Linked DNA regions of Homo sapiens. The protein of the gene in region 2 interacts with the protein of the main gene of each other region in a biochemical or structural test. Each region holds a gene or a part of one and is shown on either strand. Other genes may lie near its edges.

The links.
Region 1: the proteins of GNG11 (region 2) and GNB4 form a complex in vitro, tested with the Homo sapiens proteins (one study listed by BioGRID).

The regions. Positions count from the first base shown.
Region 1 is NC_000003.12:179,397,112-179,413,386, forward strand, and holds part of GNB4 (guanine nucleotide-binding protein subunit beta-4), read right to left. Parts: intron 8,296-16,275; coding exon 8,079-8,295; intron 4,209-8,078; coding exon 4,102-4,208; 3' UTR 1-4,101. UniProt on the Homo sapiens protein: Guanine nucleotide-binding proteins (G proteins) are involved as a modulator or transducer in various transmembrane signaling systems.
Region 2 is NC_000007.14:93,913,769-93,930,427, reverse strand, and holds GNG11 (guanine nucleotide-binding protein G(I)/G(S)/G(O) subunit gamma-11 precursor), read right to left. Parts: upstream 8,694-16,659; 5' UTR 8,291-8,693; coding exon 8,195-8,290; intron 4,338-8,194; coding exon 4,212-4,337; 3' UTR 1,818-4,211; downstream 1-1,817. UniProt on the Homo sapiens protein: Guanine nucleotide-binding proteins (G proteins) are involved as a modulator or transducer in various transmembrane signaling systems.

The DNA.
Region 1 (16,275 bases), on a different chromosome or scaffold from region 2:
AAAGAACATCGTCACTATTAAAATGATGACAGGCCCAAATGGGGGATTGTTTAACCAGTTTTCCTAAGTTAAACCAAGAATAAGCCACAAGTATTCAATTGTGTTACAACTTAGATCTGAGACATTTACATCAAAGCATACTTCCCTGAACATGTTCACATTTAAAATGCTTAAGGTCTTATTATTAAATCCAAAATACCAAAAGTATTAGAGGAGCTAGTTATACAATATTGGCACAGCATTTTTAAGCAATAATAAAAGTTTCATTTTGTCACCTTAAGTCAAGATCCATTTATCTATTAATAGGTTAAGTCTGAAATTCTGTAACATATTCTAGAAGCACCTACATCCATTATTTCCAGGAGACTAGTTTACTACTATCATGCAATCGCTGAGGTCATATGAGTCTAAAATGAAGGGAATTGCTGAACAGGCCCTTTTGCTGTTGAGATATGAAGCCCAAATCTTTGCCTCTGAAGACGGAATTCAATGTGGTGTGTGTAATCACAAGTAAAAACTTGAGCTAGGGAGGAACCTTGGATATTCAGTCTACATCTCAAACAGCATAGCTGCCAAAAATGAGGCCTGTCCATTAAAGTGGAGGAGATATCCTTGCTGATGGCAAAAACTGCTTTTTCTTTTTGGGACGGAATCTTGCTCTGTCGCTCGGGTTGGAGTGCAGTGGCGCCATCTCAGCTCACCAAAACCTCCACCTCCTGAGTTCAAGTAATTCTCTGCCTCAGCCTCACGAGTAGCTGACAGGCGCCCACCTCCACGCCCGGCTAATTTTTGTATTTTTAGTAGAGATGGGGTTTCACCATCTTGGCCAGGCTGGTCTTGAACTCCTGACCTCGTGATCCACCTGCCTCGGCCTCCCAAAGTGCTGGGATTACAGGTGTGAGCCACCATGCCTGGCCAAGAACTGCTTGCTGAAGCAGGTTTTTGGGACGATATGCTCAACACCACAGGGTGATAACATACTTAGAAAAGAATATGTATCTCTAAAATATTCTTGCCAGATCTCAAAAAACTACTCTTCTTGACATGCTACAGAGTCAACAAATTAACCTTCTCAGGCACATTATGTTTAAATGTTTCTTAGAAGGTAAAGAAGGAAACCTGGCTGGGCACGGTGGCTCACGTCTGTAATCCCAGCACTTTGGGAGGCTGAGGCTGGTGGATCACTTGAGGCCAGGAGTACGAGATCAGACTGGCCAAGATGGTGAAACCCCATCTCTACTAAAAATACAAAAATTAGCCGGGCATGGTGGCACATGCCTATAGTCCCAGCTACTTGGGAGGCTGAGGCACAAGAATTGCTTGAACCCAGGAGGCAGAGGTTGAGGTTGCAATGAGCCAAAATCACACCACTGTACACTCCAGCCTGGGTGACAGAGTGAGACTCTGTCTTTAAAAAAAAAAAAAAAGGAACATTAACTGCAATATTCTTGATGATGCAAATTTTTAAAAACTAAATCCAGCCAGATTTTTCAGCCTTAAAAACTAAGATCCAAACTATTCAACATCTCTACAAATTATATACTCATTGAATTCAGGAACAATAACAGAATTCAACAATCAGCTCAACTTAAACTGTAAGTAAACAAATATATTTAGCAACTGGAGCCCCTATTATTAGAAAGCAAAGGTGTAACCATGAAGTAATTGTGGTAGTGAGGCTACTCTGTCGCCATTTGTTTATGTGTATAATTAACCACAAGTGTTAAATAGTTTTTAGTTGCCGAGTAAATATTTAATTATGGGAATTGCTTTAAACTCCTCTTCATAAACTTTAAGAACATTAAAATAAATGTAATTTTAAAATATGTTAAGACCATAGAATTCCTGTGGTCTGTATGCCTGTGACTACTATAATAACTTTTAAGTAGAGGAGATACTCTCTTACATATTTAAGGTTATTTTTATGCATAATAGAATTGCTTTCTTCTGACTAACCTACATGGCAAACTTTCCCCAACCCTCTTTTTCTGGAAATGAATACATTCCTTTATTCTTTTCTCAAAGAACTGTTCTTTATGAAGTGATATAAATAGCCTACAAATAAACATTAATAGCAAAAGTTCATATAATTTTTTTTTTTTCCAATTTGAGATGGAGTCTCACTCTGTCGCCTAGGCTGGAGTGCAGTGGCACAATCTCGGCTCACTGCAACCTCTGCCTCCCGGGTTCAGGCGAATCTCCTGCCTCAGCCTCCCGAGTAGCTGGGATTACAGGAATGTGCCACCACGCCCGGCTAATGTTTGTATTTTTAGAAGAGATGGGGTTTCACCATGTTGGGTAGGCTGGTCGCGAACTCCTGACCTCAAGTGATCTGCCCACCTTGGCCTCCCAAATTGCTGGGATTATAGGTGTAAGCCACTCTGCCCAGCCAAAAAGTTAATAGAAATCTTAATCAAAATATAAATATACATTCATAACTGCCATCTACAATATTCTGTTTTGGTCCTATATCTTAATTTGCCTTTATCCACTTTATTATTCTAATTGTCAACTGATTTTAATAAAACTGATACATCTTTACAGTTGATGCACATATTAGCACATTCACAACATAAAAACAAAAATTTAGAGGTAAAGTTTGGGAGTATTTAGGTTAAGTTACACATGTTCAAAAGTTAACACAGACCTATCTGAAAAGTAACTAAGTTACAAAACAATGCACGTCTATATATCAGAATAATCCAAGACTTTACCATCAAGCAAGACTAACAATCTTCTATTATCAGTCATTTAGACTTATTTGTAAAAGAGAATCCAACAGGAAAAGTATCTTTAACTTGGTCGTGGGGGACTTCTAGTAAGAGACACATTATTATACCACAGAAAAACTGTTTAATATAGCTCTCTAACTCCTTTAAGAACTGCTTTAGGAATTTTTATTTTGGCTTTAAGTGGAATCACTTACATCTAGACATCCTTTGAAGCAAAACCACTTAGAAACCAGTATTTTGTGCTAAGGAAGGGAAGAAATACTACAAAATGTTGCAAAACAGAACAAAAAGCTTAAAGGTTTAAGAAATTTAAAGGCACAGATATTTCACATCAATTCAGATTTTATAGTATGCAAACATGAAATAAACCACCGTATTACAACAAATATGTGCTAGCGATTGGTTAGATTTCACACTTCTCTCCAAATGTAACACTGTCACATTGCATTTCCTCTCTAGATGTATACTGATAGCACTGGGAAAGATGTTCAGATGCAGGGACAATCCCAATGTTTACCAAACTTCTGAAAGATGAGTATACGCTACAAACTTAGTTCCAAATATGAAATGAAAAGGAAAGTCCAGCTATTTAGGGGGGTACTCAAAGTGTCAACTGATCATAACCAGGCTTTTAAAATGTCAAGAACCATTTATATGCTATTACCTACTTTTTATTAATTATAATGATGTTTCTTATGTATGTCCAAAATATCAGTGAAATCTCTAATCTCTGGCCTTCAGATTATCTGTCCCCTCAAAGGACTGAAAGCAAGCACTTTGATTAATAGTATATGGCAAATGATGCATGAGAAACAATGAACTCCCCTCAGAGGTGCCCCACCTGTCAATGCTCTTAAACATGAAGCTATCAGGATCTCTTAGATTCAAAGAGATATCAGAATTCAAGGGGACTTTCTTCAGACATAAATACACACACATACAGTATCATTTCTGTCTGTTTCTGTGCCTGGTTCTTCCATTACAAAACTCAAAAATATGACATTTCTTGTGTATACAAAGTTAAAAATGTACTTCTTAAAAAATGCAAACACAATGGCGAGCTGCTATAATGTGTACATTCTGTTCTACACAAAGAAAATACACTCTGAGTACACACAACAATTCACCAAGGTTAAAATAACCCAACCCCTCAAATTAATACACTGGTCCTTTTGATCTCAGAAGGCGCCTTTGCCTTTTTTCCTCCACCCCCACTTTTTTTTTGGTAGTTTACTGAAAGCTTGTTTTTGTAGATAATCTAATAGAAAAATCTTCACCTGCAAATATAAGGTAGAATTTTTTCACAGCTATAGGCTGTAGCATTGATTTCTCCAGATATATCAATGGAGAACAAATATGTATGACACTGTTAATTCCAGATTCTAAGAAAACTGTCCCAAGAGCCTGTTGCCACAGCCATGCCATCATCAGTTACACCTAAGCAGCTCACACGGTTGTCATGACCAGCAAGGACACCTGAAAAAAAAATTCAGTAAAAAATTGGCAATTGTAGGGTTTTAGAATTAAACAAGTATATGCAGAGATTTAAAAGGGTGCTTATAAACTATCAGTCCAGTTTTCTTGAAAGTTCATCAGTTAAAAAATAATAATAATTTAAAAGAAAACAACAAATTTCTCTGAGTAAGAAGACAAGTTAGGAGTAAGCTGGATGTATTTATAAATTTGGATTATTTGAATTTTGACATGCATCAATTTGTGGTTTTAATTTTTGAAAAATCATCTTATAATTCAACTTATATCTAGGAAAACATATGCAGACAATTATTCCACATCTCTAATAAGTTCTCGATATTCCAAATTTTGCTACTGAGCTATGTATGCTATTCTCAACAAAAACAAGATTTTCAATGAAGTTCACTGAAGGAGCCCTTCACCACAGGAACGACAAAAACGTAAGAACAAAGCTGCCTCACATCACTGCTTCCAAGAATACCAACATAATTCATTTACTTTCTTATGCTAATCACCAAACTCTGGAATGTTATTGGTTATAACTTTCTGAAACCATGAAACTCATCTAGTTTTCATTTCTTTCACACATTAAACTCATTTGATGTATTTCCAGTATTTTGGAAGAAAACAAGAAATACAGTAAGATTAATAAGAAAAATTAGAATACATCAAATGCTCAAAATTTTTAAATACAGTGTTTGAATTTGCATTCTCTCTCTCTATTCTTAAGCATATCATTTTCGATCAATCAGGAACAGAAGTTCATCTTGTAACTCTTAATATTCTCTATAGTATCTCCAGTATGGCCATGTTTGGCAATGGGAAAATTTACCATTATGAGTTGAAATAACAAAAAAAATGAACATTGTGGCTAAATACTTTAAGTCACACTGGAGAGGGAAATGAATTAGCAATTCACAAGTCAGGATCCAATTTTAAGTTCAAAGTTCCAGTTGAGCCAACCTGAAACCAGCTTGTAGGCAAAGCAAAACTAAACCTCAAGCATATAAGTGTGGACAACAAGCACATTTTTATTTTGTTATGGATACTAATTGTTTCAATCCAGGCAAAACACCAAATATCTTTAAAAGGTAATTGGCCTTAAGCAACGGAATACTTCCAGGAATCTACTTGCAAAGTGTAAAACTGCAAACCATGCAGTCTCTTGAAAGAGGTTGTAGAAAATTATTCCTGGAAAAAACTTACACTGCCTCTGCTCCCTCAGGAACCCCAACAACTGCATAGCGGGGGTTAAAAGGGTAAGGACATAAATCCACAAGGACAGTGAGATGAGAGCAGGCAATGGCAACGAACTTTCGTAAGCTGGATGGTGGCAACTGTGTTAATGAACCCCAAAATACTGAGTTCAAAATGAATAGTAAGCCAAGTAACAAAATTACACTGCAGATTCTCCAAAAGTGTCCCTACTAGGTAGAACCAGGTATCTCTGGAACAGGTAGGGGCAAAGGCAGAGTAAAATAAGATTGTGCTGGAAAGTGTTCATCAATCAGTAAGAGCCCCCAGGTGTCCCCTTCCTCCACTCTGCAGTCAGGTGACAGATCATCCTGCGCTGTGGCGTAAGGCCAGAGACTCACTCAGAGGAAAGGGTAAAACAGGGTCTCCTGACTGGAAGAAAACAGGCACAGATGCGATTGATAAAACTGTGCTGAAATGGGGAATAAAGTTTACTAGCTAAATGTTGTGGTCCCTCAGGTTTTCTCTTGAAATCAGCCCTCAAACTGGCAGCCAGTTTATACACTTCATGGAGGAAAGTGGAAGATGGAAAAAGGAAGAAAGGCAGAAAGGCAGACACAGCAAAGCTTCCTCAGTGAACGGCCAGCCTAGAGTAAATGGAGGCCGAGTCAGCACACCAGCCACGTGCCCAGAGCTTCAAATGGTTTTAGTGCCTCGCTCTTAAGTATGAATAAGAATTAACACTTTTAAGGAAATATTCTAAAAATAAAGACAGGAAACCCCAAAAATGAAGAAAAAAAAAACTTGGAAACACAAAAGATGATGCTTGAAGAAGAAACTTAAAAAAAAAATTCTTTCACTAATAATAGCTCTTAAGTTAAAAAGATGGTAGCGAAAATGAAAACCAAAACTTAACAGAAGGGTGGAAACCTGAGGTGAGGTTTCCTCCCAGAAGATAAAGCAAAAAAGATGGAAAATAAAAAATATAATTAAAAAGTCAGGCCGGGCGCAGTGGCTCACGCCTGTAATCCCAGCACTTTGGGAGGCTGAGGTGGGCAGATCACCTGAGGTCAGGAGTTCGAGACCAGCCTGACCAACATGGTGAAACTCCACCTCTACTGAAAATACAAAAATTAGCTGGGCGTGGTGGTGTGCACTTGTAATCCCAGCTAGTCTACTCGGGAGGCTGAGGCAGGAGAATCGCTGGAACCTGGGAGGCAGAGGCTGCAGTGAGCCAAGATCATGCCACTGCACTCCAGCCTGGGCAACAGAGCAAGACTCCGTCTCAAAAAAATAAAATAAAATAAAATAAAGTTAAGTAAAATAAAAATTCTTAAAAAACAAAAAAAGTCAAAAGGATCAGTCCAGGAAGCCCATTTTCAACATAATGGGAGATCTAGAAAAAGGGAATGATGATAATAGAGAAGAAATAAAATTCAACAAGCCCCCACCCCCAAATGTCCCTGTTCTATAGGGTAATGAGTTTCCGGATCAAAAAGGCTCACTAAATACCCAGCACAATGAACGAAAATGGATCCGCTCCGAGACACATCAAAACTGGCATAAAGTGTGAAGATTCATTAGTGAGAAGCACATAGAAACTAAGAATATAAACCAAAAAATTAACTCTAGAAAATACAAAAAAGCTGCATGGCAAAAGAAGTCATAACACATCTCATGGCTCAGCAGCAAATGACTTTTTAAAAAGTCGGAATTATGTAAACAGTGAATGTGGTTCTAAACAAAATCTATCATATGGGAAAAACTGGTTGGGAAGAACATGGCTACGGCAGGAGCAGCTTAAAACCCAACCCTTCTCATCCATGATAATAGGTCAACAACAGATAACACCTGAATTTTTATTTTTTTAAACAAGTAACAGCAATACAGGCATGTTATTTAGAGATATGTAAGTAAGCCAGGTGAGGTGATTCAAGCCTGTAATCCCAGCTACTCCAGAGGCTGAGGCGGGAAGAAACCAACCTTAGCAACATAAAGAGACCCTGTCCCAACAAAACAAAACAAAGGGGGCGGGGAGAGAGGAGGGGTAGGTAAATTACTAAATGTAGTTACTTTGGGGAGCAGAAACTATGGGTTGGGGATGAAGCAACTGCTGTGTTTTGGTAACAAGCTATATAGGACAACTGGATTCCTTTAAGTATAATTTTGATTTTTAAAAATAGCTAAAAATTACTCTGTATGACTTGTTATTAATGACAGTCCCCAGTATGGCTTAATGTGTATTGTCATCTTGTAGAAGCTGCAGAGGAGGACTCAGGGTATGGGGCTAAGGGAAGCGACAGGTCTATGTCCTGTCCCATACAAGATCTGCTTCAGAAGGAAGAAAACCAGCAGTTACAATGTTTCCTGTCAGGTGATAAGAAAAGTGTGATTTCTAAAAGACCACACTGAATCACATTCACTATCCATCTTTAATTCTGAAGTCTACCAAATAAGAAAATATTACAGACCTCAGTGTGATTCTTCAGAAAGCAAAAGTGTAAATATGGCTTATGGATTATAACCACAAACAAAAGGTAACAACAAAGAACATGATGAGAACCATCGGGTTACCACTTTCCACAACTCCAAGATGTCCATGGAGGCCTAGAACACAACTGATGGGAACCTCTTCACGCTTCCTGAAAATCAGAACCTAATGTGGACTTATTTACTAACCTGCACGATCTCCTTTTAGCGTGTCCCATACATTACAATTAAAGTCATCGTAACCAGCCAACAAGAGACGCCCACTTTTTGAGAAGGCTACAGAAGTGATTCCACAGATGATATTGTCATGAGAATACAATAATAACTCTTGATCTGCACGAAGGTCAAAGAGCCGGCAAGTGGCATCATCAGAGCCAGTGGCGAAGGCATATCCATTTGGGAAAAACTAGACAGGAAAGTAACAAACATTTATTCTACAGATGTATGCACAATCATAGGAGGCAATGTAATAATAGACAAATCTAGATTAATATTCCAACTTGGCTACCTACCAGGTGAGCGATGTTGGGCACTAAAGATTCTTAAATATTTTGAGCCTCAGATTCCATTTCAAAGTGGTGATTAAGACTGAATTAAATAACATATGCAAAGTACACAGCCCATTGTTCAGAACACAGCAAGTATTCAACAAATACTGGCTCTGGTTCTCCATATGTCATGTTGAAACATTTAAAGCAAGTACTAATATTTATAGAATATATATGTGTGTGTGTGTGGCTGTTGTAGAACGAATGGCAAGGAGATAAAAGGTCCACAATCCTTATAGGGTTATAAGGACCCCTCGGGACAGTTCTTTTTCAGAATTCAGAATTTTTCAGATTTTAGAAAGGTAATATACTGTGTATTTGGTAAAACCCAAATATGGTGCAATTTACAATATACTCTCAAGTCAACATTATTAAATAACACTATTCAAATCCTCAGCATCTTATTTCGTGCCTTCTTAAGATATCAGTATTTCCAAGTTGTCTACTAAAGTCTCCTACACAATGGTGTTTTGGGTCCTTGAATTTTTAATGGCTTTTGTTTTATGAATTTCAATGTTATAGCATCACTACTGTCCCTTTCATTAAGATAAAACTTCTCTCATCTTATAGTTTTTGCTCCAATTCTACTTCGGTTAATAGTAATATAGTAATATTACTACAGATTTCCTTCCAGTTTATGACTTACCCACTCTCTTACTGTTACATTTAGCCTTCCTGGGTCATTTTGTTTTAGGTGTGTTTCTTGCATACAACATTATAGTTCAGTTTATTCTGTATCTTTTAATAGCAGTAATCATTTACGTGTAATGCCTTAAGTGATTATTCTTGGTCTTAATCTCTTATCCTGTATTATATGTAGTGTATTTCCTCCCCACATCATGACTATGATCTCTGATACTTAAAATTATTGGGTCACAGTATTTCTCCCTTAACACTTGGCAGATACTGTTCAGGAGCCTTTCAGCAGTGTCTATTGTGAAAAAGTGTGAGGTTAGCTTGGTTTTTAATCTTTTATATCTAGGTAATCTGCGTTTTCATCTTGAATTTTCTCCCATCTTTTGATACTCTTAAATTCAACAGGATGTGTTGGTTTCTTTTAATTACTTTTTTTTGTTATTTTTGAGACAGAGTCTTGCTCTGTCACCCAGGCTGGAGTGCAGTGGTACAATCTCAGCTCACTACAACTTCTGCCTCCTGGGTTCAAGTGCTTCTCCTGCCTCAGTCTCCTCAGTAGCTGGGATTACAGGCATGCACCACAACGCCTGGCTAATTTTTTTGCATTTTTAGTAGAGACGGGGTTTCATTATGTTGGCCAGGGTGGTCTCAAACTCCTGGCCTCAAGTGATCTGCCTGCCTCAGCCTCCCAAAGTACTGAGATTACGGGCATAAGCCACAGCGCCTGGCCCCTCTTTTAATTACTTTTTAAAAAGTACTTCATAAGACCCTTGGACCTTCTACTCAATGTTTTTCTTCAACTAAGATATTTTTTAAAAATTTACTTCTTGGCTATCCTTCTGCTTCCAGCCAAAATGGAGCAACAGTGATTGGATTTGCTCCATGCCTTAAAAAACTAAAAACAACTGGACAAAAATATATAAAACATGGTTCTAAAAACATTGGATATCAGTCAACGAAGGAGCGTGCCTCTGAGAAACAATAAATAAAACAGGCCAGGCACGGTGGCTCACACCTGTAATCGAGCACTTTGGGAGACTGAGGTGGGCAGATCACCTGAGGTCAGGAGTTCAAGACCAGCCTGCCCAACATAGTGAAACCCCGTCTCTACCAAAAATACAAAAATTAGCACAGCGTGTTGGCGGGTGCCTGTAGTCCCAGCTACCTGGGAGGCTGAGGCAGGAGAATCACTTGAACCCAGAAGGCTGAGGTTGCAGTGAGCCGAGATCATGCCACTGCACTCCAGCCTGGGTGACAGAATGAGACTGTCTCAAAATAAGTAAGTAAATAAATAAATAAGATCATTCCTACAGCTGCTCCATCTTACTACCTTACTACCATCTTACTATGAAAGTTTATAAAGGTCATGGTGAAGGGAAGAGAAACGCAGCTGGAGCCCACTGGCCTCCCTGAGTTGAGGAGAAAGCACTGGGAATCCAAGAAGTCCACAGCAGCTAGAGTTCACAGAGAGTGTCAGAGAGGACAATGCTTGGCAAAGAGAAAACTCCAGAGGCATGCTGAGGACATCCTTTAGGTAGTCAACTGAGTACCGATCAGCAGAGCCGTGTGAGAAAACTAATCAAGCTGCAAAAGACACCCAAAAAGATTACAGGAAACAAACCCTGGTGTGTACATAGGACAAAAATAATGCCTATCCCCTCCAGACAGAGGGAAAACCTCATAATAACCTCATTATACACCGGAAAAACCTCGTAATTTCTTGAGAAGAGGGGTTTTAAGTCTTTTGCCTCACCAGTGGGGCAAAATTAAGCACACACGGTGTGACTCTGGTCCCATCTAACAAAACTTACATGCAAACCCTATAATGATCAAATAGTTTCCAAGTAACTTAACTTGGCCAGTCTGATTTTAGCTATGCCCCAGAGCAAATCTAAATAATATTTTTATGAATATAAAATTATCTAGCATCCAACAAGGTAAAATTCACAATGTCTGGTATCTAATAAAAATTCACCAGACATGCAAAAAAGCAAGAAAATATGACCTATAATTAGGAGAAAAATTAATCAGTTGAAAAAAACAGAAAAAGTCACAGAAGATAAAATTAACAGACAAGGACAACAACGTCTGGGATGAAAAGTGCACTGGATGGGTTCACGGCCGATTAGATACAACAGAAAAGACATATGAAGGCAAAGCAATAGGACCCATCCAAAGTAAAATACAGAAAGAAAAATATCCTGAACAATAAGATGAACAGAACATGAGTGAGCTCTGGGAAAACTTCAAGTGGTTTAATGTCTATGTAACTTAAAGTCTCCAAAGGAAGGAAGAGAGGAGACAGAAAAAAAAATCTGATTAGGGGCTCGGTGCGGTGGCTCACGCCTTTAATCCCAGCATTTTGGGAGGCCGAGGCAGACAGATCACCTGAGGTCAGGAGTTCAAGACCAGCCTGGCCAATGTAATAAAACCCCGCCTCTACTAAAAATACAAACAATTAGCCGGGCATGGTAGTGTGCACCTGTAGTCCCAGCTACTCAGGAGGCTGAGGCAAGAGAATTGCTTGAACCCGGGAGGTGGAGGTTGCAGTGAGCCGAGATCATGCAACTGCACTCCAGCCTGGGTGACAGAGCGAGAGTCAGTATCAAAAAAAAGAAAAAGAAAGAAACTCAAAAAAAAAAAGAAACTCATAGATCCAAACACAAGAAACATGAAGAAGGGCCAGGCATGGTGGCTCACTCCTGAAATCCGAGCACTCTGGGAGGCTAAGACAAAAGATCACTTCAGCCCAGGAGTTCGAGACCAGCCTGGGCAACATGGCAAGACCCTATCTCTGCAAAAAATACACACACGCACACAAAATAGCCAGGCATGGTGGCACGCACCTGTATACCCAGCTACTTGGGCCCAGGGAAGTCGAGGCTGCAGTGAGCCATGACTGCACCACTGCACTCCAGCCTGGGTGACAGTGAAACCCAGTAAAAAAAAAAAAAAAAAATTATGGCTTTAAGTTCCAGTATTAGAAATTTTAAAAAGTTCCAAATCAATGACATCAGCTTCTATCTTAAAAAAACTAGAAAAAAGGCTGTGCACAGTGGCTCATGCCTGTAATCCCAGCACTTTGGGAGGCCGAGGTGGGTGGATCACCTGAGGTCGGGAGTTCGAGACCAGCCTGACCACATGGAGAAACCTCGTCTCCACTAAAAATACAAAAAAATCAGCCGGGTGTGTTGGCTCATGCCTGTAATCCCAGGTACTCGGGAGGCTGAGGCAGGAGAATCACTTGAACCTGGGAGGCAGAGATTGTGGTGAGCCAACATCACGCCATTGCACTCCAGCCTGGGCAACAAGGGAGAAACTCCATCTCAAAAACAAAAAAAAAAAGGCCAGGGGCTGTGACTCACGCCTGTAATCCCAGCACTTTGGGAGGCCGAGGCAGGCAGATCACGAGGTCAAGAGATCGAGACCATCCTGGCCAACATGGTGAAACCCCTTCTCTACTAAAAATTCAAAAATTAGCTGGGCGTGGTGGTGTGCGCCTGTAGTCTCAGTTACTTCGAAGGCTGAGGCAGGAGAATTGCTTGAAACTGGGAGGCAGAGGTTGCAGTGAGCCGAGATCGCACCACTACACTCCAGCCTCGCAACAGAGCAAGACTCTGTCTCAAAAAAAAAAACAAAAAAACAAAACAAAAAAAAAACTAGAAAAAGAAAAGCCAGTGAATCCGAGTGATCAGTTTGGCTTTGTTTCCCCACCCAAATCTCATCTTGCATTGTAATCCCCAAATCCCCACGTGTTGTGAGGGAGCCGGTGGAAGGTAACTGAATCATGGGAGTGGTCTCCCTGCAGGCTGTTCTTGTGACAGTGAGTTCTCACGAGATCTGATGGTTTATAAGGGGCTTCCCCCTTCGCTCGGCACTCATTCTCTCTCCTGCTGCCCTATGGAGAGGTGCCTTCCACCATGATTGTAAGTTTCCTGAGGCCTCCCCAGCCATGCAGAACTGTGAGTCTATTAAACCTCTTCTCTTTATAAATTACCCAGTATCAGGTATTTCTTCATAGCAGTGTGAGAACGAACTAATACACCAAGTAAGCAGTAGAAAAGAAATAATAAAGATGAGAGTGAAAGATCAATGAAACAGAAAAACAACAGAGTATCACTCAGAACAAAAGCTGGTTCTCTGAGGAGATAGTTGATTTATTTATTGATTGATAGATAGATAGATAGATATGTTCATTGCTAAGGCTGCCATAACAAAGCACCACAAGCTGGGTGGCTTAAACAAAAGGAATGTATTGTCTCACAGTTCTGGAGGCTAGAAACTTGAAACCAAGATATCTGAGGACTGTGACAGAAAGATGTGTAATCTTCTCACTGTCCTGTAGATGACTGTCTTCTCCTGTGTCTCTTCACATCATCTTCCCTCTATGCTTGCCTGTCTCCAAACTTCCCCCTTTTATAAGGACAATAGCCACGCTGGATTAGTGTCACCCAATCCATTATGACCTCATTTTAACCAATTATATCTGGACCAACCTTATTTTCAAATAAGGTCACGGTCTGAGGTCCTGGGCTTTAAGACTTCAACATATAAATTTTAGATGGGCACAATTCAACCCACAGTCCCAGACTATCAGGAAAAAAGTAAAACAGAAATTACCAACATCATAAATGAGAGCAGGATATCCTGTAAACTCTATAGATATCAAAAAAATTGAGAGTATAATAAATAGCTGTAAGCCAATAAATATGACAATGTAGATGATATAGATAAAATCTTTGAAAGTTCACTCAAAAAGAAATGGATAACCTAAATAGCCCCATATCTAATACGACATCACATTATACACTGTAAATATATACAATTTGTCAATTATACCTTAATAAAGTAGGGGCTGGGGAGGAAAAAAGCCTTGATCTATGATAGAAATAACTGAATCTGGCACTGAGTTAATGAAATTAATAATCACAGTTTACAATTATTAAGTGTCTTTACTGCTGAGAGACACCTAGAGGCCCCACAAATATAGAGCCAAATGGAAAATTTCAGCAACTCACTCAGTGAATATATGGGGCTCAGCCACAAATGAAACTATTATAGTTTCATTTCTAAGCCTAACATTCTAAACAGTGTGAGAAATGTCACTGTTAAAATCATCACTGAATTTCAAAATATTATAAAAATATAATGAAGTTGGTCATAATTTCATCTGAAAAAAGGAAAACTGTTATATATACAGTATCTTTGTTTGAATCATTTTATTCCAAAAGGAAGCCTCTATATTTACTTATATTTGTAAAAGATGGTACTAATGTTTTGACAAAAAAAAAAAAACAGGAGAAAATCAATGTAAACACACCATTTTAAGTGGCTGAAAAAAAACCACACGAACATCTCAACAGACGGACAAAAAGTATTTGACAAAAATTCAACACTCATTCCTCATAAAGACTTTAGCAAATTATGAGAGAACATCTCAACTTGATAAAAGTAATGGGCTGAGAGATAGAGAGGGTTAACTTTGCCTGCTCTAAAACTCTATTATTCTAACCAGGTTGGCCTACGGCAAAGAGGTGGGGATGGGGTTAGCACAGCATTTACTTTCTCTGATGTTTTCTATAAAATCATGTAAAAAAAGTGACTTTCAATAAGTGTATGATAAAGAAAAGCTTACTAATTTTTCCCCAAAAATGTCTTGTTATAAAATTAGAATGTTTCTCAAACATTAAAATCCTTGGCAATTATGGTACTTTTGGACATTCTAGTCATATCTGTACTGTTTGGCATCTGATCTGCTTAGGTAACCTAACTCAAGCAGTATCCTACCTTCTTTTAACACCCCTCCCCCTCAATTCTGACCATTTGATAATCATTTTGATTGTCATTCAAAATGTTATTTTCACTTTACCCTAATTTACAGATATCTATGACTAGCTTATCCTCCTATATACTGAGTACTTTTTACCTGGCTTAATCTATTTATGGTTTTCTGTTTAGGTAGTTTTTTTAAATACGAAGTAGCTTATAAATAACTGATACAGCAAGGCATGGTAGCTCACTCCTTGTAATCCCAGCACTTTGGAAGACTGAGGTGGGAGGATCGCTGAGCCCAGGAGTTCAAGAGCAGCCTGGGCAACATAGTGAGACTCTGCCTCTACCAAAGATTAAAAAAAACAAACAAACACTAGCCAGGTGTGGTGGTGTATGCCTGTAGTCACAGTACTCCTGAGGCTGAGGCAGGAAGATCACTTGAGCCCAGGAGTTCAAGGCTGCTGTGAGCTATGATCATGCCATTGTACTCCAGCCTGGGCAACGGAATGAGACCCTGTCTCTAAATAATAATAATAATAATTTATACCATTTACTGAGCATCTAATACCTAGTTTCATTTAGTCTCCACACCATTCTCTGATGTAGGTGGTATTATCCCTATTTTAAAAACTGAAGAATCTGAGGTTCACGAAGATGAAGCAGCATGACTAGTTTCACACAGGTGCTTAATGGCAGCAGAACTAAGATTAGGTCCCGGGTTGCACTGACTTCAAAAGCTATACTCCACACTAATCAGCTGCTTTTTTCATCCTTATTGTTCTCTCTTTGGGTTGTTCACTTTGGTCCCAGAAAGACGAGACTTTTTTCTCATCTGAATTCACTGGTAGAACATCCACGATCTGCTTGTTTACTCATGATAATCCCTCCACTTTGGAAAAAAAAAAAAAAAGTGATATTCACCAGCAATTAAAAACCTAGGTTGCCAGGAACAGTGGCTCATGCCTGTAATCCCAACACTTTGGGAGGCCGAGGCAGGAAGATTGCTTCAGCTCAGGAGTTCGAGACCAGCCTGGACAACATGGCAAAACCCCATCTCTATAAAAAATACAAAATTGGCCATGCATGGTGGTGTGTACCTGTAATCCTAGCTACCAGGAGACTGAGGTGGGAGGATCGCTTGAGCCCAGGAGGTCGAGGCTGCAGTGAGCCGTGACTGCACCGCTGCACTCCAGCCTGGACGACAGAGCAAGACTGTCTCAAAAAAACAAAAAAATAACAACAAAAAAAAATCCAACAATAACAAAAAAGATCTAGGACTATGAATTGAAGCTTTCTTTTTTAAAAAATCAAAAACCCTTATGACTTGGAGATTCAAAGTTATAAGAGCACATTACTTGTAAGAATCCTTGAAGGCAATTTGTTGTTAAAATCATGCCATAGAGCTCAACACTTTAAATGCATAATAAATT
Region 2 (16,659 bases):
GGAATAAATACATAAATGAATAAAATAGAAAAGGACACCTAGAAATAGATTCACACAAATATGCCCAGTTAATTTTTGGCAAAGTAGCAAAAGCAATCAAATGGAGAAGGAATAACCTTTTCAATAAGTGATCCTAGAGCAATTAGACTACTGGCAAAGAAAGAAAGAAAGAAAGAAAGAAAGAAAGAAAGAAGAAAGAAAGGAAGGAAGGAAGGAAGGAAGGAAGGAAGGAAGGAAGGAAGGGGCGAGCAGGCCTATATTTAAACTTCACACCGCATACAAAAATTAACTAAAATGGATTAGAGACCTAAATATAAAACATAAAACAATAAAATTTTTAGAAGAAACACAGGTGAAAGTCTTTGGGATGAGGAATAGATAAATATTTTTTAGACTTGACACCCAAATCTTGATCTATAAGACAAAAAATGGATAAACTGGACCTCATCAAATTGAAAACATCTACTCTGTAAGATTAAAAAAAGCATTAAAAGGTTTAAAAAACAAATTATAGAATAGAAGAAAATATTTACAAATCACATATCTAATAAGGTCTTATATCCCAAATATATAAAGAACCCTCAAAACTCAACATTAAATAAACAAATTAGAAATAAGCAAAACACAAGAATAGACATTTCATCAAAGAGGGTATACACATAGCAAATACACGGAAAATGTTCAAAATCATTAGCTATCAGAGAGATAAAATTAAAACCATAATGAGATATTACTATCCACAATAGCTAAAATGAAAAATAGTGATAACACCAAATATTGATGAAGATGTAGAGAAACTGAGTTGCTCATACATTGCTTATGGGAATGTAAAATGGTACAATCACTGTGGAAAACAGGTTGGTAGTTTTTTTAAAAAGTAAATATAAATTTACCATGGAACCTAGCAAATGTATTCCTAAAAATTTATTCCGGATGAGCAAAGACTTATCTTCATACAAAAATCTGTACATGAATGTTCATAGCACCTCTACTTGCATTAGCAGAGAACTGAAAACAACCCAGACATTCTTTGATGGATAAATTGGTAAACTGTGGCACCTCTGTAGCATAAAATACTACTCAGCAATAAAAAGGAATAAACTATTGATACACACAACCAACTTGGATGAACCTCAAAGAAATTATACTGAATGATAATAGCCAACCTCAAAAGGATAGCTACTGTATGATTTAATTTATGCAGCAGTCGTAACCTAATTATAGAGATGGAGAACAAATTAGTGGTTGCCAGCAAAGGAGGAGAACAGGCATCTTCAAAAGAGAAAATTGACACACACGAAAACTGACTAAAAATCATTGGAAATCAAAGAAATGCAAATTTAGACAATGGTGAGATATTAATTTGCATCTAGCATACAAAAAATTTTGGTCTCACAATACCAAGTGTGGGTGAGCTTTAAGGTAGCTTCTGCCTAGAAATAGAAAAGCCCAATTTTTCTTTCTTCTTTTTTTTTTTTTTTTGAGATGGAGTTTCACTCTGTCACCCAGGCTGGAGTGCAGTGGCGTGATCTCTGCTAACTGCAACCTCCGCCTCCAGGGTTCAAGTGATTCTCCTGCCTCAGCCTCCTGAGTAGCTGGGATTACATGTGTGCGCCACCACACCTGGCTAATTTTTTGTGTATTTTTAAGGAGAGACGGGGTTTCATCATGTTGGTCAGGGTGGTCTCAAATTCCTGACCTCGTGATCTGCCTGCCTCAGCTTCCCAAAGTGCTGGGATTATAGGCGTGAGCCACCCTGCCCGGCCTGATTTTTCTAATTCTATATGAGTTTATAGAACCTAAGTCTCACTACACAATGCATGATAACTATTTTTAATCAAATAGTAAATAATTACACAACTATACACTTTGAATAAATTGGATACATAATTTAAATTCTACTTAACAAATTATCAGTCACCAAAGGTTACATTTACAATATATCTAAATATATAGTGGATGTATTTTTTCTTTTTTAATTACAAGCTAATAATTTTAGCAGTTGAACAGTTGAAAATTAAAATATTTTTATTGCACTTCTACATGTTGGCTGGGTTATAATGATAAATGGTAAGAAAAAGAAACAGAATTATATTTAATAGAAGCACCTATAAGATTAGATATTTATTCAGGAAAAACCAGAAGTCGTCCAACTGATTGATCATATGGTTGAAAGAGACATGAAGAGCAAAAGCTAGGACTTGGGAGTGTACACAAATGGATAGCTGAATGTGCTAATAGAAATCAGGATATAGACTTGTAATCGCAACTCCCAACAAGTTAGGGAATAAATGTATTGTCTTGGCCTTTCATGAAAGAAGCAGGTGATTTAAACTGCCTTGCCAGTAACCGGAATAAATGTTTGCTTTCATAGGCAACAGAAGAAAACTTTATAAGTGCAAAGAAATGAAACAGCTAATAGAAGTAAAACTTTACAGGCACCAAAGCTCTAAAATCCCATGCCATGTTAAATGTTAAATGACTAATAGTACTAATAGTTCTATGCTGTTTGGAAGAAATACACCTTTACTATTCCTAAATCCTTCCTAAGAGTAGTAGATCATACTACTCCTTCCTAGGAGTAGTAGTTTTGGGCTAAAATTATCCCTGGGCTCTCAGTAATGCCAATTGATGTCATCACTTGGACAGTGTCAGGAAACTGAAGGAAATAGTTTCTGCTTTTGGTCTGTGTAAACTATTTTTCAAAAGCCTGGGGTATTCTGTTCTTTCCCAGAGAGGGAAAGGAAAGGAATTTCAGAACGAGGATGCTGATATACTTTAGAAAGCTGCTACAGGTTACAGGCGCCTCTCTCGCTTGATAGTAAGGTATACCTACATGTGTAAGTGGGAGAAAAGAGCTAGTCAAGGAGAAACATTGGCTTCTGGTGCCACATTGAAAATTGCAGGTCAAGTTAATGACTAAGTCCATTTGAGCTAGAGCTAACCAGCAAGGGTTTTTCCACGTTTTTCTTTTGGCTCAAACTTGGAGCAATTTTGACCCAAAAGACGGAGAAGAAGCGGGAGAATGCTCAAGGTGAGAAAGAAAGGTCCCTTTTTGTGAGGTTTGGGCTTCAGGTACCTTTGTTATGAACTTGAGCAGGAGTTATACTCTGACGTGTTGCCCTGCAGGATAAAACCACTGAAGGGAAGGTCACTGTGAAAAGGTAAGCCACAGACTGGGAGAAGGTATTCGCAACACATATCACCAAACACGAATAAATGGCCAGAATATATGAAGAATTCCTACAAATCAGTAAGAAAAAGACCAACTAATCTTTAAAGTGGGCAAAGATTCACTGGTTCCTTTGGAGGAGAAGAAAAAAAGGCATGTTTGGCCCAGGCCTGCTGGAAAATGCTGGCAAGCATGAGTGCAGAGGTCCAAGTGTCTGCACCAATGCCACAGAACTGGAGTAGTGCCATGCCCAAGACCTGGAGAGCACATGGGAGATGTAGCTCTGTGCAGGAATAAGTACTGGCTCTCAAAGCCAGGGCTGGCCTGGCCACTACACGGCAGAGAGGCAGGGCACTCTTCCTGAACCCCAACTCAGTATTTTCTTCAAGGCTACTACTACAGGAACACTATTAAGAAGATCTAAATGATGATAAACTAGGGAAGTACTAACATAGATGTGGCTTGGCCTTGTTCCTGACTCAGATAATCTGACTTCTGTCAATGTTATAGGAATTCTACCTGCTCAGTTTCTTAATAGTTAAGGTTAGATCAAACACGTTCCAGAGGTCAGAACTCAGCACTCTAAACCATTGACGCAGGGTTTGGAGATGTGATCTGTCGAACCACCTAACCTTCTGAATCATATTCCAAACCCAATCATACTCCACACCCAAAAGATTACGGGGAGAAATATAAAAGTTAATGCATGAAAAGTGTCTTCTTAAATCACCAACACTCATCTTCCCAAGACAAAACTTTATTTGAAGCATCAAGCAATATACTGAAAGAAGTGTCATGCTCAAGTAATGTTCTTATTTCCATAATTGTACATCTGATACTCTCTGCTCTCTTAAAAAAGACTGCATAGTGAGCAAAGATGAGTAGCACATATGCTTTTATACATAACCCTATCTATATGGTGCTTAAGAAAGTCTCCTTTTAATTTCATTCTTCCTTCCTTAAAAAGCATGTTGGTTTTATCTGGGAAAACTAAAACAAACTAGTTCTTCCACTTAGGATGCAGTTTCTCCCAAGTTATTTATGAAATAACACAGCTGCCTTTTTCTTTAAAGGGGTTCTTGTCTTCTGGAATTCCCTTTACTAGAGGATCCTCTCCAGAACGTTCTTCAATATAGTTCTTTATTTCTTCAGAACATTTAGACACCTTAAGTATAGAAAAAAAAGAGAATACATTAGGTTAGGGTTGTTTAAACTTTGTCCCTACGCCTTAATGAAATAAGTATAATTGAATACAATAAGTTTTTAAACATTTTTTTACATTTACATATATATGTGCATGTGTGTGTGTATATATTATATATATAATACATATATAAAATCTGGGCTCTGCACTCTAATATTTTTATTCTATTACTATACCTATGATGCAACCTATGTAAAATATATTTCTTACTGTTGGTCGTTGGTCAAATTAAAAAATGTTTGAAAGTCACTGCATTAAATAAATCATCTCCAGCAGTTTTTTTCCATTGTGTCTCATATGATTTCCTTCCTCTGCTAAAATACAATTATGCCATGTCTACAATATTTTAGGAACTGAAATATACTCTTATTTTAATTTTCCATGCTAGTGAGCAGGTGCAGTAGTAGATAATCCCCAAATGTTTTGGGGTGTGTAATGCCACGATTCTCACTTATGGGTGTGTGCCATGTTCTGAAATTTCACGAAATGATAGAAGCTTTGGAAAAAGCCTGATTCTGGAAAGATTGGAATTGTCCAAATATCGCACTCTGTGTTGCTCCTCAGAATTTCTTCCTGCTGCATGAGGGCAATGATCATAATAAAAGACTTATCTGAGACTTATTAGGCTTATCTGAGAATAAATTTTTTTCTGAGATGGAGAAAAAATTGAATAGTGTCTTCAAAAAGTCTATTCTTAAAAGAAGAGTTTCTTCAAAAAGTCTATCTATCCTTAAAAGACAGGTTGCAAGAATGAATTAAAAAAAGAATAAAAACAAAAGAAAAGAAATTAGGGTTTTAATGAAGGCCTGTATTGCTAGTAAGAAATTTAAAGTAAAAATTACAGAAGTACCAGCAAATTTAATTTAATTTAATTATTTATTTCTTTTTGAGATGGAGTCTTGCTCTATTGCCCAGGCTGGAGTGCAGTGGCAGGATCTCGGCTCACTGCAAGCTCCGCCTCCCGGATTCTAGCCATTCTCCTGCCTCAGCCTCCCAAGTAGCTGGGACTACAGGCGCCCACCACCACGCCTGGCTAATTTTTTGTATTTTTAGTAGAGACGGGGTTTCACCACGTTAGCCAGCATGGTCTTGATCTCCTGACCTCGTGATCCGCCCGCCTTGGCCTCCCAAAGTGCTGGGATTACAGGCGTGGGACACCGCGCCAGGCCGCACCAGCAAATTTAAATGGAGACCTATGAAAACTGGGCAAATGTTCCCATTGAATTAGTAATCTAAATTAGTAACCTCAAACTGTTTTAACGGTTACTACTAAAACATGTTTGCATGTGTATCCCAAAATGAATATAATTTTTAACTACAAATAAGTACAGACACTGCTTTGTTAATACATCATGCAAAATTATAAAACATAAACTGGAAATTATAAATGGGTGAGGTTTAAAACTAAACAGAAATAGCAATGTTAACATTTTACTTCCACACCCCAAATGATTATCCTCTGCAAATCAGTGTGGAAGCCTCTGACCTCAAATTGAAAACTAGGTGATGTAGTTGTGTGACTTAAAATCTGGCAAAATAAAATCTTTCAAATACAATTCTTTCAGGTAACATTTGCTCTCGTTTGTTGACATTCAGAGTGCATGCATTTTAAGTGAATTTTTAGAGTTGATAATGCACGTGTCATAATTTAGGGTCTGTCGTCCCAGGTTAATTTCTCAGCAAGATACATGCTCCCTACATTGAATCTTTTCTTACAAGGTTTTTTCATTAGGTTTCAGAAGAGGTCTGTAACCTCCAAATGTGAGTAATTGCTCCTCTGATACATTTCCTTCCATAATCAAGAGGACATGTTTGATAAACATTTAACTACAGCCAGAATGCAACTTGCAAGTTTTGTCTGGGCCTAAGTTAAGGACTGAACACGTAGCCCAGATGTTAACTATTTATTGACTGAATAATGGACTGGGAATGAGAAGAAGAATGTTTTAGTACCTGCCCTATCACTATCTATCTCTGTGGTCTTAAATGTGGAGCTAGTTAGCCTTTGTGGGACTCAAGTTTTTTTTAATCCTTAAAGTGAGGGAGATGAATGATCTCTAAACATTCCAATGCTTGCCTAGCAATAATAATGTATAATTCCAAGTGTATAATCAAATGTCTTAATATTATTGTTGAGATTTAGATGCCTCTTTCTGTATTTCCTAAGGTTACATATATCCAAAGTTTTTTCTCCCTCTGGCATACACTTGAGGTTTCTGGAGGTGGGAAGTTGATGCCACAGGCCGTGTCCTAAAGGGTCAGGCTGGCTAGCAGGGAGAAACTGCTAATGAATGATACAGTCAATTTTTACATAGTCGGTTGCATCCACATCACTTAACTTAAAACTCTGAGTAAGTAGAAGACGCTTGTCTTTTTTCCTAAGTTCTACACAGTGATACCAAATATTAAGATATTAGAACCTTGCATAGACAATGCTGTACTTCAGCATATGAAACTCTGTTTAATATGTAACTCCTAAGGTTTATTGTGTGAACATATCTAAGTGGCCAGCACTTGCTGTACTGGGAACTTCGCCATCCATAAAATGGGTCCCTTAAGGTTTCAAGAAGCGTGCTTATTGATTGGGTAGTGTAACTTCCTTTTTTTCCCCTTTAAACGCGTTGGTGTTTTTAAAGCTACAAACCCTTAACATGATAGAAGGGACAGCTCATTATAAAAGCTAGGAAGAGCCGGGATTTGGATGTGAAAGGTTAAATTTGAGAAAAGAAATATGTAAAAAGTAAAACACAAAAATGCCTGCATCTTCTAATCATCACTCAACAGTGAAGACTCTTGCCCTTAACAGATTTATTATAACTAGAACAGGAAGGCAAGTGAGCATATTATAACGCTTCATTTCCATTGTTTTTCTTAATTTTTTCTAGTGCTAAACCATAATAAATAAGATCAGTTCAAAATTTTCTTGCTGAAGAGGAAAGGTTAATTATCTTTAAACAATATCTATTCAAAGACCTTTCCTAGTCTACAGGATGCCTGATTGAGTTAAAACAGGAAGAGGGATTAGTGTCTGAAGGAAGGTCTTGATGACCAGTAAGAAATTGAAGTAAAACTTATAAAACTCCCGAGACGTTTCAGTGGAGAATATTGAATACTGGGTCATATGTTCTCAATGAAATGGTAATCTCTATCAATAGTCTCTAAAACTTTAAAATTGTGATCACTAAAAAAATTTTTCATATGCACCACAGTGTATGTATAATTATTTATAAATAAGTACAGATACTACTGTATTAATCGCATACTAATAAAACATAAAGTGAAAATTATAAAGGGATGAGATTTACAAATAAATATAGAAATTCTAATATTTTGTTCCCAAATTTCGGTGGACTGTTCTTTGCATATCACTGAAGGCCACTGGTGAAATTCAAAATTAAATAATGTACTTGTAAGACTTTAAAATACGGTTTTAGAAAATTTCTTTCAAATATCATCCTTTCTAGTAGTGTAAAAGATCAAAGAACCAAGTAGCTATCCGCTTTTTTCCTACAAGTGAGTTTTGAAAAACAGCTGTCTAATGGAAAGCAAGATTTCTTGTCTATTTTCCCCTTCCTAGGCATCTTAAAAGTTAGGACATTTGGCCTTAAATTACTTATCAGATCCTTGCTCCCTCCTCTACCTCCTAGGATTTCCCCACATCAGCTGGCAGTCCCCAGGCACTGCCAAAGGGTGGTGAGAAGAGAAGCTACAAAAAGGGGGAAAAATAAGCTAAACTATTTGCTTTACTGTTACTAAGCAGGAAAAATCGGACCCTGCTTCATTTCAGAGAAGGAAATATTCCGGAACAGCCAACTTACTTGTTGTCTCTGCAACTTCACTTCTTTGCGAAGCTGCTCAACTTCCATTTTCAGTTTTTCCTTCTCTGGCAAATCTTCGATGTGAAGGGCAGGCATTTTCGCCCCAGAACCGGGCTCGGGCTAGCTCTGGCAGCGGAGCCGCTGGAAGAGCGGCGAAGCTCGGCGCGTCCCGAAACAACTGAAGGCCTGGCCCGCCGCCCACCCGCGCAGGATGTGACTGCAGCCCTGCTGCGGTCCCCAGCTCCCCGAGGGCTTGGCTTTCTCCGGGACGCTTGTCACGCCAGCGTGCCCCAGCTTCCTAGGACCTGAGAACTCTGCCTTTTCTCAAGTCCCTGCAACCCAGGAGGCCTGCCCGGGTGCTAGATGAGGGTTAAGTTTGAGACTGGGTCCAAGCAGCTTCCCGCTGCTCAATCGCCCAGCAGGGATGCTGGCCACGGACAGGCCCTGACTCAGGACCTGCCACGCCCGCGGGGGACGGCTGGGCTGGGGCTGCAGGACTGGGAACAGCAGAAGTTTTACTTTGTGTTCTCCGCGCACCCCCGCTCCTTTTTTTTTTTCCGTTTCCAAGTCACATCCGGGTTTTGTTTGTGAAGCTAGGAAAAGGAGTACACTACCCAGCAGGAAATAACTACCCTTCACCTCTCAAAGAGTTTTAAAAATATGCTAGATATAGCTTTTCCCTAATTACATACATAGGTTGTTGCAAAAGTAATTACTTTTCTCTAATTACATATATAGGTTGGTGCAATTAGTTTTGCACCAACGTAATAAATGCATAGTGGAGAATGCGGACGCTTAAGAAAAGGCTGAAAAGAAAATGAAGCTTAGCCCTAATCCCAGAAATACCCACCAGTGTTCTGCTCATTTGTGTCCATCCGGCTTGTTCGAGGCCTAATATGGGTTTATACATTTTGGGCGAGGAGGGGGCAACAGGGTGTGAATATCGTTTACAAGTTGCAAGAACATTTTCTATTATTAAATAATCATCTGCATCCTCAACAGCAGCAGAGTTTGTATTTTTTTTATTTTTCCGGGGGAATGTTATGTAGAGGGGTGCATCAAAGGATGATATAAGAGAAGACAGAAGCAGGAATCTTAGAGTTCTTAACCGAAAGCCTTTCTCCACTCCCCAACCCTAAGTTTTGGGTGACACTTGACACCAAGGATTTTGAATTCCTGGCTCCTGAACCTTCCTGGATGTAGGCAGTGGATTCATTTAGTATTAGTTTCTCCACTTTCTGGCAAGCACTATTTATCTAGCTGTTGCTCTGGAAAGCCAGGAAAAGTGTCCGATGTGAAAAAAGTTTACATGCAATAAAACTTTCCCTTTAACTGTAACTAAAGTCTTGTTGATGGTGGTCAAAAGAGTAGAAGAAAAATCAAACATGAATGTAAGAAACCTTCCCTAGCAGTTGGATATTTCTCTTTCTTTCCAGAGATAACCTCCTGCCTCACAGAGTCAAAGGCAAGTGAAATATTAACTTAATATTTCAGAGTAGCTGACCCAAGACACCCATGACCATTCCCTGTTTAGGAAGCAGGAGTTTTTGTTCGTTCCTAGTTTCTTACCACGCTCCGCTCAACCTCAATGAATAAATTAGAATGAAAAAAACAATGAACCACTTAATGAATACTCCTGGCGTGTAGTTGCAGCTCTGCCACAGGCCATCACTGAAGAAGTCATTTAATTTTTCTTAGTTTTGGTTTTCTAATTTGTAAAATGTATAGTAAGGCAGGGAAGTAGTGAATCAGCTAAGCTATGTTGTGTCTCTAATTGTGTTGGTATGTCTATATATGATAAATCATTTTCACAAAGAAAATGTTTAAGAGCTTCACTTTCAATATTTGAAATACCAGGGTTTTCCAAGCTCAGAGTAGTTAGAGCATCTACTGAAGTTTACTTGTAAATAAGCAGGGAGACTAGACAAATGTCCATATCTGTCTTGTGCACTAATTCATTTTTAAAATTTTCTATTACTTAAATTTAAAAGGTTGGTCAAAAATACCTTAAATTAGTGAAAGTAATCAACGTGAATGTGGCCTAAATTAAATAGGTTCAGCACCTAAGTTAAATAAATTGGTTAAATAAATTATTGTGTTTTTGTTCTTTTTTTTGTTTTTTTGTTTTTTTGTTTTTTTTTTTTTGAGACGGAGTCTCGCTCTGTCGCCCAGGCTGGAGTGACTGGCACGATCTCCGCTCACTGCAAGCTCCGCCTCCCGGGTTCACGCCATTCTCCCGCCTGAGCCTCCGGAGGAGCTGGGACTACAGGCGCCCGCTACCACGCCTGACTAATTTTTTGTTAATGTGTGTTTGTTCTAAGTCATAAAAATATAATTATTTTGGCTTTGAAGTTTCTTTCCCATGAAATCATCTAGTTGCTTAGAGGGATAAATACTTATAAGCCCATATTGGTTCTTTAACTTTTCCCATCGTATTATGAGACGTATTAGAAACAAAATACTTGTTAGTCTTTTTTATTGTTATTAAATAATTCATATTCTAATATCTTAAGTAAATTGATTAAACTGAAGTGAATTGCAAAATGTTGAAATTGCATGATCACACAGGATTCTGAAAAAGGTTTTATTGTTGCTGGTTTCCTGTTTGTTTGTTTGTTTGTTTGAGACGGGGTCTTGCTCTGTCACCCAGGCTGGAGTGCAGTGGCGCGATCTCGGCTCTCTGCAAGCTACGCCTCCTGGGTTCACGTTATTCTCCTGCCTCAGCCTCCCAAGTAGCTGGGACTACAGGCGCCCACCACCACGCCCAGCTAATTTTTTTGTATTTTTAGTAGGGACGGGGTTTCGCTGTGTTAGCCAGGATGGTCTCGATCTGCTGACCTCGTGATCCGCCCGCCTCGGCCTCCCAAAGTGCTGGGATTACAGGCGTGAGCCACCGCGCCTGGCCCTGTTTGGTTTTAAATAGTAAAATGATGAGAATATTTTTTTTTAAACAAAAGGATGTGTAGTCTTCTATGCCTAGACACCGAATTTACCTCCCAGAGAAGAACCATGTTAAGCAATTTCTCATGTATACTTGCAGAAATAGTTTATCAGCAATATTCAAAAATTTTGAATAAATAAATTTTAAAATTTGTTTAGCTGTGTCCAAATGTTTTGTTAGGTTTTTACTTATATTTTACATAGTACCCCGGTAAAATTTATTTTACAAGTAGTATGAGTAGAAACCATTCTTTAGTAAAAATGACAGGTGCAACCAGCAATGAACTTTGATTAATTAGCCCACTGTCGTTTCACAAATGTTTTATAGAAATTAGTTAATAAAAATAAAAGTAACCATTTTCACTTTTAAATTATAAAAGAGTAACAACCATGAAATTTTTACTTTGGTATGCAAAAATAGGAAAAACAAGGTTTTGACAATTTTTGTGATTTGTTATGTTGTTAAAAATCTATATAAAGAAAAATAAAACATTGAAGGCAGTTAAACTGGAATTGAGCTAATACTAACTTGAACTCAAAAAAGATCAGGATTCTGGTCTTATTTTATCTTGTGATTTTTGCAAGAAACACATTATTTCTGCTTTTTTATTTCGTGTAAGTAAACTAGGTTACCTTTCAAAGTCTGCTCTTCTAAAATTTATAGAGTGACTTTGAGAGGCCGATACAGGAGGATCACTTGAGACCAAAGGTTCAGGAGTTTGAGACCAGCCTAGGCAACATACCGAGACCCCGGTCTCTACAAAAAAATAAATAAATATAAATAAATAAATAAATAAATTTAAAAAGTGCATAGTAACTGTTTTGACCATTGAAATTATGGTTTCTTTAAAGAAAGTACACTTCAGACGCTCTTGGTTCATTTGATATTTGTTTTAATCTGTTAAAACAATCATGAGGCAATTTTCAGGAGCTCATTTGTTTCCTGTAACTACCTACCTAAGATTCCTTTTCTTTTTTTTTTTTTTTTCTTGGGCAGGGGAAGGAGTTTAACTCTTGTTGCCCAGGCTGGAGTGCAATGGCGCGATCTCTGCTCACTGCAACCTCCGCCTTCCGGGTTCAAGTGATTCTGCTGCCTCAGCCTCCCGAGTAGCTGGGATTACAGGCGTGTGTCACCACAGCCAGCTAATTTTGTTTTTCTTTTTTTCTTTTCTTTTTTAGTAGAGACGGGGTTTCACCATGTTGGCCAGGCTGGTCTCAAACTCCTGATCTCAGGTAATCCTCCCACCTAGGACTCCCAAAGTGCTGGGATTACAGGCGTGAGCCACTGCACCCAGCCCTAAGATTCCTTTTCTAGATGAAGAGAATGCCAAGTCAAAGGATGATCTGTGTCTGATGCTCTGAGTATCTTAGCAACTACTTATAATTCAGGATATCAAAATGATTTCTCTGGCTGGGAGTGGTGGCTCTCACCTGTAATCCCAGCACTTTGGGAGGCTGAGGCAGGAGGCTCACATGAGGTCAAGAGTTCGAGACCAGCCTGGCCAGAATGATGAAATCCCTTCTCTACTGAAAAAAAAAAAAAAAAAAATAGCCAGGTGTGGTGGCATGAAATTGCTTGAACCCAGGAGGCAGAGATTGCAGTGAGCCAAGATCGTACCACTGCACTCCAGCCTGGGCGAGAGAGTAAGACTCCATCTCAAAAAAATAAAATAAAATAAAATACAAATAAAAATAAATGATTTCTCTTACCAATTTTGTTTCTATATTACTTTAACTCCCATCATATATAACTGATCATTCTCATTACTTAGTTTACTATTTTCCTCATGTAAACACATTATTGAGGCATTTAGGAAGTTTGATCCAATATAAACTTTTATAAGCACCACTCTTGCCTGCTTTTAAAGTCAATTACATTGTCCAGACAATTTGTTAGTTGATATGACACTTTTCAAAGATGAACAGTGCTTCTGACTTGGGAAATCTCCAATGTAGTACTGAAATTAAAACAACCGTAGAAATTATAATGAGAAAAAGTAAAGTAACGTTAAATGACTTAAGAGACACACAAAATACTCTTGAGGTAGAATGGGAGAGATAGTCTCATAAGAAGAGTAGGATTTCAAAAGGCTGAAATGGGGTGGAGTGGAGGGAGATCTCAGGTGGAGGGATCAGTATGACCAAATTCCAGGTGGTGGGAAAATGTCCACGGGAAGTATAATAATAGAGGACATTTGTTAGGCTTCTTTCTATGTACCCGTTTCTGATCTAAGAGATTATAAGTATTCAGATAATCTAGCCTAATCACTAATTTTATATATAAAAAAAAACAGATTCAAAAAGTTCACGTCATTTGTCCAAGTTCTCAATGACAAGGTGGAAGAGTCAGGGTTTTAATTTTGAATTGTTGGGCTGCAAACTTTGTCTCCAATGGTAAACTGAAAGTTAGAGATGTTGGTTAGGACCATCTTCTACAGGTTACTGAATGCCATAGCATGTACTTACTTTGTATTTATTTTAATCAGAGAAAGGGAGATATACTGAACACTTCACTAAATAAATACTAACTTGCAGGTGGAAAACTTCTAGAGACAAACCACAATTAAATAAACAAATAAATTGTAGTATGCCAGGTGGTGATGGTGCTACGGGGGAAAATAGACTGAGAGAGAGAGACAGGAAGCGCTTGGTGGAGGTTGGGAGGACTGTATGGAGAGGGTTTTGTAAATTTAAATAGGAGGATAAAAAGCTTTTCTTGAGGAAAAATAGATAAGACATTCAGTAACTAATCCCAGAATCCCTTAATACTCAGAGCACATTTGATGAAGACACGTGGTGGGGTGTGTTGCTGACTGTTCAGCCAGAAGCCCAGAGTCTTGACCGAAGAAATTTGTCAGGTGACTTCTCTGAAACTTTATTTTCTCCATTTCAAAATGAAGAGTTTAGACAAGAGTCAACAGATATTTGTTGAGCATTTATGATGATCAGAGTGGGAGGGCATTGTGCTAGAAGCCAAACTTTGGTACAACTTTCAGACTCCCTTCCAGACCAAATAATAGATAATTTTAATGTTTTTTTTTAAAGTGTGACAATCAATTAGTATTTCTGAGTATTCTGATCACTGAAGTATACAAAATAGCACTGTAAATGTGAGACAGCAACAAGAAAACACTGACCACAAAAGTGGTTACTGATTTAGGTAATTACAACTTGTCATTTGTTACAGAAGCAGAGGCAAGTTTTCTCTTAGTCATTAACACAATGGTAGTGAAATGTGACTCATGTAAACTCAACAGGATGCCAGAAGGACCTGATGTAGGTGATGGAGATTTCTCTCTCATGTGTGCTCACCTTGTTAAAGAAAAGACTGTGGTGTTGAGTCTTCATGATGATAGGGTAAAATAGCATGTTTCTTAAAGCACTTTAGAAATTTTGTCTAGATCCTTTCTCAGTAATAATACTAGTTAACACTTATTGTATCTTACCATGGACCAGGTAATATGCTGAGTGTTATAGTTGCATTAGTGTATTACTTAACCCCTACACAAAACAGAAGATATAACCATTATTGTCTTCATCCTATGCTAGGAGAAACAAATTTAGAAAGAATTAAGTAGCTTATCCAAAGTGAGTTGGGCAGTAAAGTGGCAGAGCCAGAACTGTCTGGCTCCTAAGTGCATGCTTATAACCGTGATTCTGCTGCTGGTTAAATTCACCGTGCTCCGTGACCACAGACTGAACCCTCAACCCAGTTGGCATTCTGGGGAAAAGTCACAAGATAGGTGAACTGCATATCAGAAAAATAAGCTTCCTAATTCCATAAGCAAGAGAAAGTTTGGGAAAGAAAACAGAAATTTAACCACAAAATTTCTGGGTAGAAAGTTATAAGTATTGAAAGGGAAGTGAAAAAACATAAAACAGTAAATATATGCTGACAACTCAGAATAATATAGAATCATTTATAAAACATAGTTCTTTTTAAAGAACTTTAAGCAATATTTTTTTGGCAATTATGTGTTAAACCCTGTGCCAGCTATGTTAAGAAAAACATAGAATGATGGGTTACCACACCCCAATTTTTATTAAAAGTTTACATCTATAAATTTAAAAATTCATGTACATGCATAGTAGTAGCATTATGTGTGAAAAAAATCCATATTGTTGTTAACGTTTGAGATATTTCCAAGAATTTGTTTAATTTTTTTTCTTTTTTTTTTGGTATTTTGAAATCACACAGCCTCCTTTGAGCTCTTTGAAGGGATTTTTGTCCTCTGGGATGCCCTTTACCAGTGGATCCTTGCCAGATCATTCTTCAACGTAATCTCTTCTTCACAACATTTGGATACCTTAAGGGGAAGGAAAAACGGATGACTCATTTGGTTTAAAACAGAATACTCCAGATGCCAAGAATTTATTTACTGCAATAAGTTTTCAGGTCGTATAATTTCAGTTTGATTCTCTCTGCTTTCCACCAATGCATACGTACTTTGTAGGAAAGAAGAAAGTTGCACCCTTCCCACTCCTTCTGGATATATCTCCAGACAAAGGAAAAACAGCTGGCCATGCTCCAGCTAAAGATTCCCCGTAGACACTGCCTCCAACATCAAAGGAGACAAGACCCAGGAATCAGAACACAACTGGCAACGGAAGTCAAGAATGTCATCAGATTTCATACTGATTAAATCTTTTTCCTCATTCCAAAAATGTGACTCGTAAAGGTGGAAGAGAATAATTATTAAATTCCAGGCTTATCATCATCCCTAAATTCTCAGAAGTATATACATGGCGTGATCTCCACTCACTGCAACCTCCATCCTCCACCTTCTGGGTTCAAGTGATTCTCCTGCCTCAGCCTCCTGAGTAGCTGGAATTAGAGGCACACGCCACCATGCCCAGCTAATTTTGTATATTTAAGTTTGTTTTTGTTTTGGTAGAGACAGGGTTCACCATGTTGGCCAGGCTGGTCTCGAACTGCTGATCTCAGGTGATCCTCCCATTTAGGCCTCCCAAAGTGCTGAGATTACAGGCATGAGCCACTGCACCTGACCCTAAGATTCCTTTTCTAGATGAAGAGAATGCCAAGTCAAAAGATGAACTGTGTCTGATGCTCTGAGTATCTTAGCAACTACTTATAATTCATGGTATCAGAATGATTTCTCCGGTGAGGAGTGGTGGCTCAGGCCTGTAATATCAGTACTTTGGGAGGTCGAGGCGGGAGGATCACTTGAGGTTAGGAGTTTGAGACCAGCCTGGCCAACATGGCAAAACCTCTTCTTTACTAAAAATACAAAAAGAGTTAGCCGGGCGTGGTGGGACTGAATTACTTGAACCAGGGAGGCAGAGGTTGCAAGTGAGTCAAGATCGTACCGCTGCACTCCAGCCTGCGTGAGAGAGTGAGACTCTTGTCTCAAAAGAATAAAATAAAATAAAAAATAAAAAAACAGATTTCCCTCACCATTTTTTTCTGTAAGACTTTAACTCCCATCATACATAATTGATCATTCTCATTACTCAGTTTACTATTTTCCTCATGTTAACTCATATTTTAGTAATTTAGGAAGATT